Regions from separate parts of the Homo sapiens genome. Here region 2 is linked to region 1. Evidence: fine-mapped expression QTL. A gene starts in region 1. The other region holds a variant in brackets. All regions are shown on one strand. Distances are between the middles of the regions. Region 1 holds the start of MVB12A (multivesicular body subunit 12A). Region 2 has its middle 4.8 kb from the start of CCDC194.

Region 1 (5,483 bases):
GAGTGCAGTGGCGCGATCTCAACTCACTGCAACCTCCGCCTTCCAGGTTCAAGTGATTTTCCTGCCTCAGCCTCCCAAGTAGCTGGGACTACAGGCGTGTGCCACCATACCCGGCTAATTTTTTGTATTTTCAGTAGAGATGGGGTTTCAACATGTTAGTCAGGATGGTCTCGATCTCCTGACCTTGTGATCGGCCCGCCTCAGCCTCCCAAAGTGCTGGGATTACAGGCGTGAGCCACCGCGCCCAGTCCTGTTATGTCTACTTTAGACACCAAGTCACTGACTCCTAATGACAGTCCTACAAGATGATATATATGTCCCGGTTTTAACATGCAGAATCTGAGGCTCAGAAGGTAGAAGAAGGAACAGGAGACCTCAGGGGTGTCCTTGAGGGTCAGATTGGTGAGATCATGAGTTGGGAGGGCAGGGAAGGTGGCTAGACACTGGGGGGTGGCCCTACCCTATTCGAAGGTATCCAGGCACTGTCTTGGTCTTCCCACTCAGCCGGACATCAAACACAGCCGTGTCCGTGGCTCCCAGGGGCAACAGCTTCACACACATGCGTTTCTTCTTGGACACAGAGGCCTCTGGGAGTGGGGGGTAGGGGAGTGAGAGAGGGAAGCCAGGCAGGGGTGGGAAGGCCCAAAGATGACTCTAGGATGAGGCTCGCCAGGGTGCTGTTTAAGGCAGCCACATGGACAACATTGGGGATGGGGGTGGGAGGAGTGGTTAAATCATGAATGGTATAGATGAAGGAGGGGATTCCATGCAGCCTTTAGGAACCGCTGGAGTAGGCTGATCTTTGGTGATATGAAGCTGCATTCATGGGGTGGCTAGCTGTGGAATCGGACAGAGCTGGGTGCCCATCGTGGCCCTCAAAACTTACTTTCCATGAGCCCTCTAATCCTATAGAGGTTGGACAACTAGCACCCATGAGCCAAATCTGGCTCAAGGTCTGTTTTCTTTTCTTTTCTTTTTGAGACAGAGTCTCACTCTGTCGCCCAGGCTGGAGTGCAATGGCGCAATCTCAGCTCACTCCAACCTCCGCCTCCCAGGTTCAAACAATTCTCTTGCCTCAGCCTCCCAAGTAGCTGGGACTACAGGCGCCCACCACCATGCCCAGCTAATTTTGTATTTTTAGTAGAGACAGGGTTTCACCATGTTGGCCAGGCTGGTCTGGAACTCCTGACCTCAGGTGATCTGCCCGCCTCAGGCTCCCAAAGTGCTGGGATTACAGGTGTGAACCACCACACCAAGCCTAAGGCCTGGTTTCATACAGCTGATGTGTTAAGAGTGATTTTTACATTTTTAAGGAATTGTAAAAAAATTGAATATGCAAAACACATCATCTGCCCTGTAAAGCCTAAAATATTTACTATAAGGCCCTTTACATAAAAGTTTGCCAACTCTAAGAAAAAATAAAGAAAAAAAGTTTGGCCGGGTGCGGTGGCTCACGCCTGTAATCCCAGCACTTTGGGAGGCCCAGGCAGGTGGATCACCTGAGGTCACGAGTTCGAAACCAGCCTGACCAACATGGAGAAACCCCGTCTCTACTAAAAATACAAAATTAGCCAGGCGTGGTGGCGCATGCCTGTAATCCCAGCTACTCTGGAGGATGAGGCAGGAGAATCGCTTGAACCCGGGAGTCGGAGGTTGTGGTGAGCTGAGATCGCGCCATTGCACTCCAGCCTGGGCAACAAGAGCGAAACTCCGTCTGAAGAAAAAAAAAAAAAAAAAGGTTTGCCAACTCTAGTATGAATGAATATAGCCTGAGTCAAATAAAAATGACAAGAAAGGGTGGGAAAGTTCAGGTGGGGCTGGGAGGGCTGCACTAGGGTTGTGGGCCCAGAAGAGGAGGGGTAGGGAAGGGTGAAGGTGACATCTGACGGAGGACGGAGAATGAGCTACAAAAAGGAGAGAAAAAGTGCCCCAGGCAGAGGAAGCGGCGTGTGCAAAGCCTGGAAATGAAAAAGAAAACTGCGCAGTGGTTTTGCTTGGCTATGGTGTAAAAAGACACAAGTAGCACAACAGTAGTGAAACAGGTGGCGTGGACTGAACACTTAACTCGAGGATGCAGGCTGTGCCAATCATATCACACATTTTGAATCAGGACAGGGGATGTCGGTCCACCCTAGGGCAGGGCTCTGAGTCCTCAGCCAACCCTGTCATCACCCCGTGTGCCAGGGGGCAGCCGAGGCTCAGATACCGCGCGCCCGTCGTCCCTCCTCCCCCGCTCCTCCCTGCAAGGGACCCGGACAACTCTCGCCTCCGAAGCAGCCCTTACTGGAATCCATGGGGTCGCAGACGGGGGAGAAGCCCAGCGGCAGGGGGCTCTTGTCCACCACGATCTGGATATCGGCCACCACGTTCTCCTGCGGGTTCTGGGGGTGGAAGGGGGACACGGCGAGGGTGGCTAGCAGCGGGGACAGCGCACCTGGCATAGGGCACCGTGAATGGGCAGGGGAGGTGGGCAGACCCTGGTGGTTCCGAAGGTGGGCACCTCTTACCTCTAGGCTGCCCAGAGAACTAAGGCACAGGAAGTAGCCAGATTTCTGCGCGAAGCTCTTGCCAAAGCTGGCGGGTGCCCCCTCGACGGTGCAGGAGATCTACCGGGAGGACGCGGGTCAGCGCCGGACTCCCACCCCACAGCGACTGCCTCCCCCATTCGACCCCCGCCCCTCGACGCCGCTCACCGCGCTGAACCCCCGCGGCGGGGGTGCAGAGGCCGACGACCAGGCCAGGCCAGCCAGCGGCGCCGAGTCTGTCCCGGGTACGGGATCCATCCTGCGAGCCGAGCGCCGAAGGCGGGGTCGCGGGGCACAGCCTCGAACCTCGGAGCGCCTCCCGACGGCAGCGCTCGCGACCGAACTACAACTCCCAGAAGGCCATGCGGGGGGGGGGGGCGGAGATTGCCCGGAAGCGCAGTATACGCGTGCCCGAGGAGCTGCTGGCCAATGGCGTGGGGAGGCGGAGCCTCGCCACCACGCGTCGCCAGGGTTGCGCGCGTGAGCGATGATGGCGGAAAAAAAGGTCTTGCCGGCTTTCCGCGCCCAGCAACTTCCGCCGGAAATGCTACGGCACAGGACCAAGAGACTCGTTCTCTGCAAGTCTGCACTACGTTCCCCAGAATTCCTTCCGGCCTCAGCTGCTAGTCTAGAAAAAAGCTCGGTGCTTAACGGAAAAGTTGGGAGCTTTGTGGCCGCGCGCAGTGGCTGACGCCTGTAATCCCGGCACTTTGGGAGGCGGAGGCGGGCGGATCATGAGGTCAAGAGATCGAGACCCTCCTGGCCAACGTGGTGAAACCCCTTCTCTACTAAAAATGCATTGTGAAGAATCTGCAATTCCAGTTCTGGGAAATCATCCCAAAGGAAATCATCTGTGGGATACGCAGCTATTGATTTAAAGAGCGAGTACTATGGACCATCATGAGCTTTGAAATCTTGGGTATAACTTGAAGATTTGTTCACAGGCACAATACGTTTAAAAAGCGACGTATAAAAGAATTTATTGCCTGTAGTCCCAGCTACTGAGGATGCCACCAGCAAACCGAGTTACCTCCCCACTTTGTGTAGGTGGCAAAGAAGGAACATCCAATCGGAAAAGGCAATCAGGTTTTATTCACTGGCCAGGAATGGAGAAGGAGAGGCTCTCACTCTAACTGCCCCTTCTCCCTCAACAGTAAAAAGCATAACGTTTTATTGTTTCTTCCCCTGGGTACAGGAAGGGAGAGGAATGCTAGCATGTGCAGGGTGGGACTCCAGACACGCAGGCTCAATTCATGAGCCTCAATTCCTGGGTTGTCTTCATACAACCCATCTACACAAAATGGAGATTTTCTTTTAAGAGAAGGAATTTTAGCATTATAATTATATATTGATGATCTAAAGTCGACTAGAGGTCGTCTGTTCCAGTTTGTGGTGATTTAGGGATCTTATCTTCCTCTGGTATCTGGTCAGGGGTCAAGAAGGTCTGGGGACATCCCTGGCTGTCTGCAATCTTTAAGCAGCTGTGCCTTTTTTTTTTTTTTTTTTGGACTTACAATAAGAAAGAGAACTTTCCCAGTTATTTTATCAGGGCTGTCATGGCAACAGGGTAACAGGGAGGCTGAGGTGGGAGGATCGCTTGAGTCCAGGAGTTTGAATCTAGCCTGGACAACATAAGGAGACCCCAGTGTTTAAAATGAAAGAAAGAAAGGGAAAAAAAGTATTTACTATAATAATATGCTTTTAAGCCGGGCACAGTGGTTCACACCTGTAATCCCAGCACTTTGGGAGGCCGAGGCGGGCGGATCATCTGAGGTCAGGAGTTTGAGACCAGCCTAACATGGTGAAACCCCGTTTCTACTAAAAGTACAAAAAACTATCCAGGCGTGGTGGTGCGCGTCTGGAATCCCAGCTACTAAGGGGGCTGAGGCAGGAGAATCACTGGAACCCGGGAGGTGGAGGTTGCAATGAGCTGAGATCGCGCCATTGCACTCCAGCTTAGGCAACAAGAGCGAAACTCGTCTCAATAATAATAATAATAATAATAATAATAATAATATGCTTTTTTACACCCATTGGGGGAAAAGTTTAGAAAAATAGCGAACAAGTGTCCTGCGCTGCCCAGACTAGCAAACAATACAGTCAGGATGGCTAATGGTGACCCCAAGAAACCAAAGGGCAAAATGTCTGCTTATAGTTTTTTTGTGCAGATGTACAGAGAAGAACATAAGAAGAAAAACCGGCCTGGCACAGTGACTCACGCCTGTAATCCCAGCACTTTGGGAGGCCAAGGCAGGCGGATCATGAGGTCAATAAATTGAGACCATCCTGGCCAACATGGTGAAACCCCGTCTCTACTAAAAATACAAAAATTATCTGGGCATGGTGGCAGGCGCCTATAGTCCCAGCTACTCGGGAGCCTGAGGCAGGAGAATCGCTTGAACCTGGGAGGAGAAAGTTGCAGTGAGCGGAGATCGTGCCACTGCACTCCAGCCTGGGCGACAGAGTGAAACTCCATCTCAAAAAAAAAAAAAGGAAGAAGAAGAAGAAAAACCCAGAGGTCCCTGTCAATTTTGCAGAATTTTCCAAGAAATATTCTGAGAGTTGGAAGACAGTGTCAGTGAAAGAGAAGTCCAAATTTGATGAAATGGCAAAGGCGGATAAAGTACACTAGGATCGGGAAATGAAGGATTATAGAGCAGCTAAAGGGGAAGCAAGAAGAAAGAGCCTAATGTCCCCAAAAGGCCACCGTCTGGACTCTTATTTTTTATTTTATTTAATTTATTTATTTTATTTTTTAAAATTTATTTATTTATTTATTTATTTTTTTGAGACGGAGTCTCGCTCTGTTGCCCAGGCTGGAGTGCAGTGGCGCAATCTCGGCTCACTGCAAGCCCCGCCTCCCAGGTTCAAGCTATTCTCCTGCCTCAGCCTCCAGATTAGCTGGGACCACAGGCGCGTACCACCACGTCTGGCTAATTTTTGTATTTTTAGTAGAGA
Region 2 (5,258 bases), 21 kb after region 1:
GACGGTCAGTGGGATTTAAAAAAAAAAAAAACCCTCTGGCCAGGCACAGTGGCTCACGCCTGTAATCCCAGAACTTTGGGAGGCCGAGGCAGGTGGATCACTTGAGCTCAGTTCAAGACCAACCTGGCCAACATGGTGAACCCCATCTCTACTAAAAATACAAAAAAATGGCTGGGCGTGGTGGTTCATGCCTGTAATCCCAGCACTTTGGGAGGCCAAGGTTGTTGGATCACAAGGTCAAGAGATCCAGACCATCCTGGCGAACACGGTGAAACCCTGTCTCTACTAAAAATACAAAAAATTAGCCTGGCGTGGTGGCATGCACCTGTAGTCCCAGTTACTCAGGAGGCTGAGGCACGAGAATCGCTTGAACCCGAGAGGCGGATGTTGCAGTGAGCCGAGATCCCGCCACTGCACTCCTGCCTGGGCAATAGAGCGAGACTCTGTCTCAAAATAAAAAAAATTAGCGGGGGGTGGTGGGTCGTGCCTATAGTCCCAGCTACACAGGAGGCTGAGGCAGGAAAATCGCTTGAACCCAGGAGGTGGAGGTTGCAGTGAGCTGAGATCACGCTACTGCACTCTAGCCTGGGCGACAGAGCAAGAGTCTGTCTCAAAAATAAATAAATAAATAAAACCAGGCCTCCACTTCCATGGTTCCTACTGCTGTCCCAGGGAAGGGTCCCCAAATACCTCCCCTGCCACAGACCCCCTGGCCCTCTTGCCCCCTCACTTCCCCTTGCTCACCACCTCCACCTTTACTGATCCCAAGTTCCTTTTTGCCTCAAGGCCTTTGCCCAAGCTCTGCCTGCTGCCTGGAGCACCCGTTCCTCACTCCCAAGGTCTAGGGCAGGGTCTCAGCCTCAGCAGCATTGGTGGTTTGGGCTGGATGGTTCTCTGGGTGGGGACCATCCTGTGCATTGTAGGATTTTGTTTTTTGTTTTGGGTTTTTTTTGTTTGTTTTTTTGAGATGGAGTCTCACTCTGTCTCCCAGGCTGGAGTGCAGTGGTGCGATTTCAGCTCACTGCAAACTCCGTCTCCCGGGTTCAAGTGATTATCCTGCCTCAGCCTCCCGAGTAGCTGGGATTACAGGCACCCGCCATCATGTCCGGCTAATTTTTGTATTTTTAGTAGAAACGGTGTTTCACCATGTTGTTCAGGCTGGTCTTGAACTCCTGACCTGAAGAAATCCACCCGCCTCGGCCTCCCAAAGTGCTGGAATTACAGACATGAGACACGGCGCCCAGCTGCATTGTAGGATATTAAACGGCATCCCTGGCCCCCACCCATAAATGCAAGTAACACCCTCCCAAGTTGTGACAATTAAAAATGTTTCCAGGCTGGGCATGGTGGCTCATGCCTGTAATCCCAGCACTTTGGGAGGTCGAAGGGGGAGGATTGCTTCAGCCCAGGAGGTCAAGACCAGCCTGGGCAACATAGGGAGACCTCCATCTCTACAAAAAATTTAATAATTAGCTGGGCATGGTGGCACACGCCTGTAGTCGCAGCTACTTGGGAGGCTGAGGCAGGAGGATCGCTTGAGCCTGGGATGTCAAGGCTGCAGTGAGCCAAGATGATGCAACTCCAGCCTGGGCAACAGAGCCAGACTCTGTCTCAAAAGAAAAAAAAAGTCTCTATATGTTGCTAAGTGTCCCCGGGAGCAGGGTGGGCCTTCACTTCTGTGGCCCTGGCTTGCAAAAAAGCCAAAGCCGCTTTGCAACTACTAAGCTATTTCATCCTCACCAACAGCCCCGGTGAGGCCTAGGGTAATTACTGGACTTTTTCAGGGGTTTTTGTTTTTTTTGTGGTTGGTTTGTTTGTTTTTTGAGATGGAGTCTTGCTCTGTTGCCCAGGCTGGAGTGCAATGGTGCGATCTCAGCTCATTGCAACCTCCACCTCCTGGATTCAAGTGATTCTCCTGCCTCAGCCTCCCAAGTAGCTGGGACTACAGGCGCCCACCACCACGCTGGGCTAATTTTTTTTGTATTTTTAGTAGAGACGGGGTGTCACCGTGTTAGCCAGGATGGTCTTGATCTCCTGACCTCGTGATCCGCCCGCCTCAGCCTCCCAAAGTGCTGGGATTACAGGCGTGAGCCACCATGCCTGGCCTTGTTCAGGGTTTCAAAGCTCGTTGGGCAATTAACCCTCCACATTCTGTGGATTTCCTTTTGCCCAGGAAACAAACGCTCCCCACGTGACCTCCTCCACTCACCACTCCCGACTTGGGCCATGGAAAGGTCCCCAGACTATGCTGCTGCTCCACCCACCCCCACCCCTACTCACACTCCCTCCCCCACTCTCCCCCCACAACCCCCACCCCCATCCTGCCTGGGCTGTATTTTGCTGATAAGATTAGCCCAATATTGTGGATTCAACTCCCAATCCCCCCACACAATGGCCTGGGTGTAAATTTCCCTACTTCCTAAAATGTCCCATCTTCCCTCCCTATTTTGTCCTTTTCCTGAGAGACCTGACTCCAAGGCTGTGACCCACCCAGGGGTTGAGAAGCTGACGGCTGTGGGGTTCTGCAGTCCCCAGTGGGAATTTGGCAGTGACCAGCCACTGCTGAGTGTCCCTGCTCTGGGACTCGACCTCTCTGAGCTCTGATTTCTTTCTTTTTTTTTTTTTGAGACAGGGCCTCTCTCTGTCACCCAGGCTTAAGTGCAGTGGTGCGACCTTGGATCACTGCAGCCTCAATCCCCTGGGCTCCAGCAATCCTCACACCTCAGCCTCTTGAGTAGCTGGGACCACAGGTATGCACCACCATGCCCAGCAAATTTTTTTTTTTTTTAAATAATAAAGACAGGATCTCACTATGTTGGCCAGGTTGATCTTGAATGCTTGGCCTTAAGTAATCCTCCTGCCTTGGCCTCCCAAAGTGCCAGGATTACAAGCGTGAGTGAGCCACGTCCACACGTCCAGACACAGCTCATTTCTTTTTCTTTTTTTTTTTTTTTAGACAGAGTTTCACTCTTGTCACCCAGGTTAGAGTGCAATGGCATGATCTCGGCTCACTGCAACCTCCCCTTCTTGGGTTCAAGCAATTCTCTTGCCTCAGCCTCCCGAGTAGCTGGGATTACAGATACCCACCACCATGCCTGGCTAAATTTTTTTTTTCTTTTTGAGACAGAGTCTCGCTTTGTCGCCCAGGCTGGTGTGCAGTGGCACGATCTCAGCTCAGCCTCCCGAGTAGCTGGGACTACAGATACCCGCCACCACACACAGCTAATTTTTGTATTTTTAGTAGAGATGGGGTTTCACCATGTTTG[C/T]CAGGCTGGTCTCAAACTCTTGATGTCGTGATCCACCCTCCTTGGCCTCCCAAAGTGCTGGGATTACAGGCATGAGCCATTGCGCTGGCCAATTTTTGTATTTTTAGTTAAGATGGGGTTTCACCCGTTGGCCAGGCTGGTCACAAACTCCTGACCTCAGGTGATCCACCTGCCTCGGCCTCCCAAAGTTCTGGGATTACAGGCATGAGCCACCATGCCCGGCCCTAATTTTTTTTATATTTTGTAGAGATGGGGTCTCACCATTTTGCCCAGGCTGATCTCAAACTCCTGGGCTCAAGTGATCCTCCCACCTCAGTCTCCCAAAGTGCTTGGGTTACAGATGTGAGCCACCATGCCAAGCCTGGTTAAAAGAGTTTTTTCCAGGGCAAAGTGTGAGGGCAGAGTCTATCCAGGGCCACAGGGACACCAAAGAATGAGGATGAGTGCCTCTCATTCAGGGAAAAGTGTGGATTGTTTGTTTGTTTGTTTGTTTGAGATGGAGTCTTGCTCTTGTCACCCAGGCTGGAGTGCAATGGCATGATCTCGACTCGCTGCAACCTCTGCCTCCCGGGTTCAAGCGATTCTCCGTCTCAGTCTCCCGAGTAGCTGGGATTACAGGTGCCCGCCATCACGCCCGGCTAATTTTTGTATTTTTGGTAGAGACAGGGTTTCGACATGTGGGTCAGGCTGGCCTCGAACTCCTGGCCTCGTGATTCGCCCGCCTCGGCCTCCCAAAGTGCTGGGATTACAGGCATGAGCCAGCTCGCCTGGCCTGGATCCTTTATAAAGCCACAAACAGAGGTGCTGAACAGAAATACATTTCCCATGCAAAGGCTAGAATACAGATAGGAGATTAGATTGGCTACTATTGACTATGTCCTAAGGGGGTTGCTTACACATTCTGTTGTAAAGAGGTGACAGTCACAAGGGTCTCTATCTCCAACAACATTTAGTCTATGCTTGAATGAAGACTAGGAAGTCTAGTTAATGTGGGATATCTCCACACAAGAAAGGCCAGGGGTTGGGAATGGGGTGGCTCGGTGCTCACAGTGGTGGTAATCCCAGCATTCAGGGAGGCCCAAGTTGGGGCATCGCTGGAGGCCCAGGTGGGGGCATCGCTTGAGCCCAGGAGGTCAAGGCTGCAGTGAGCCGTGATGGCACCACTGTACTCCAGCCTGGGTGACAGAGTGAGACCTGGTCTCAAAAAAAAAAGAAAAGAAAAAATAAAGAGGCCAGGCGTGGTGGCTCACCCCTGTAATCCCAGCACTTTGGGAGGCCGAGGTGGGCAGATCACTTGGGGCCATGAGTTCGAGACAGCCTGGCCAACATAGTGAAATCCCATCTCTACTAAAAATATAAAAGTTAGCTAGGTGTGTTGGCAGGTGCCTGTAATCCCAGCTACTTGGGAGGCTGAGGCAGGAGAATCTCTTGAACCTGGAAGGCAGAGGTTGCAGTGGGCTGAGATCGTGACATTGCACTCCAGCCTTGGCAACAGAGCAAGACGCCATCTCAAAAAAAAAAAAAATTAGCTAGGAGTGGTGGCAGGTGCCTGCAATCCCAGCTACTCAGGAGGCTGAGGCAGGAGAATTGCTTGAACCCAGGAGGCAGAGGTTGCAGTGAGCCAACATTGCATTCCAGCCTGGGCGACAGAGCAAGACTCCATCTCAAAAAAAAAAAAAAAAAAGAAAGAAAGAAAGAAAGAATGAATGAATGAATACAAGAAAAGAAAGAAAGGTTGATTCAGTTTCCAGGGCTTAACTATTACCCCTTGACATAATAAATCTGGAAGGTCCTAAAATTTTATTTTATTTTTTACACGCCTAAATTCTGGACCCACCAAAAAAGAAAACAATTACTTCTGATTCTTTGAGTTTTCATTAACTGAACTCATATCACAGGCAGAAAGACTAAAGTCTATCAACATACCTGAATAGACTTTTTTTTGTTTTTTGAGACATGGTCTCACTCTGTTGCCCAGGCTGGAGTGCAGTG

What was found. PIP is the estimated chance that this variant, and not a neighbour inherited with it, causes the effect.
Region 2: its variant is fine-mapped to the expression of MVB12A in whole blood (INTERVAL, PIP above 0.99).

Annotation. Positions count from the first base shown.
Region 1 is chr19:17,417,436-17,422,918 of GRCh38, reverse strand. MVB12A (multivesicular body subunit 12A) reads right to left here and starts at 2,872. Exons shown (of 9, transcript NM_138401.4): 1 at 2,694-2,872; 2 at 2,508-2,606; 3 at 2,285-2,381; 4 at 461-587. The coding sequence starts at 2,783. It also overlaps the pseudogene HMGB3P29. RefSeq lists silencers at 2,546-2,775, 2,916-3,125 and an enhancer at 3,286-3,335.
Region 2 is chr19:17,396,332-17,401,589 of GRCh38, reverse strand. No RefSeq gene overlaps it. Among named protein-coding and RNA genes, the nearest start is that of CCDC194, 4.8 kb to the right of the region's middle. RefSeq lists a cis regulatory region at 2,050-2,614. The variant C/T (reference allele first, on the strand shown) is at 3,267.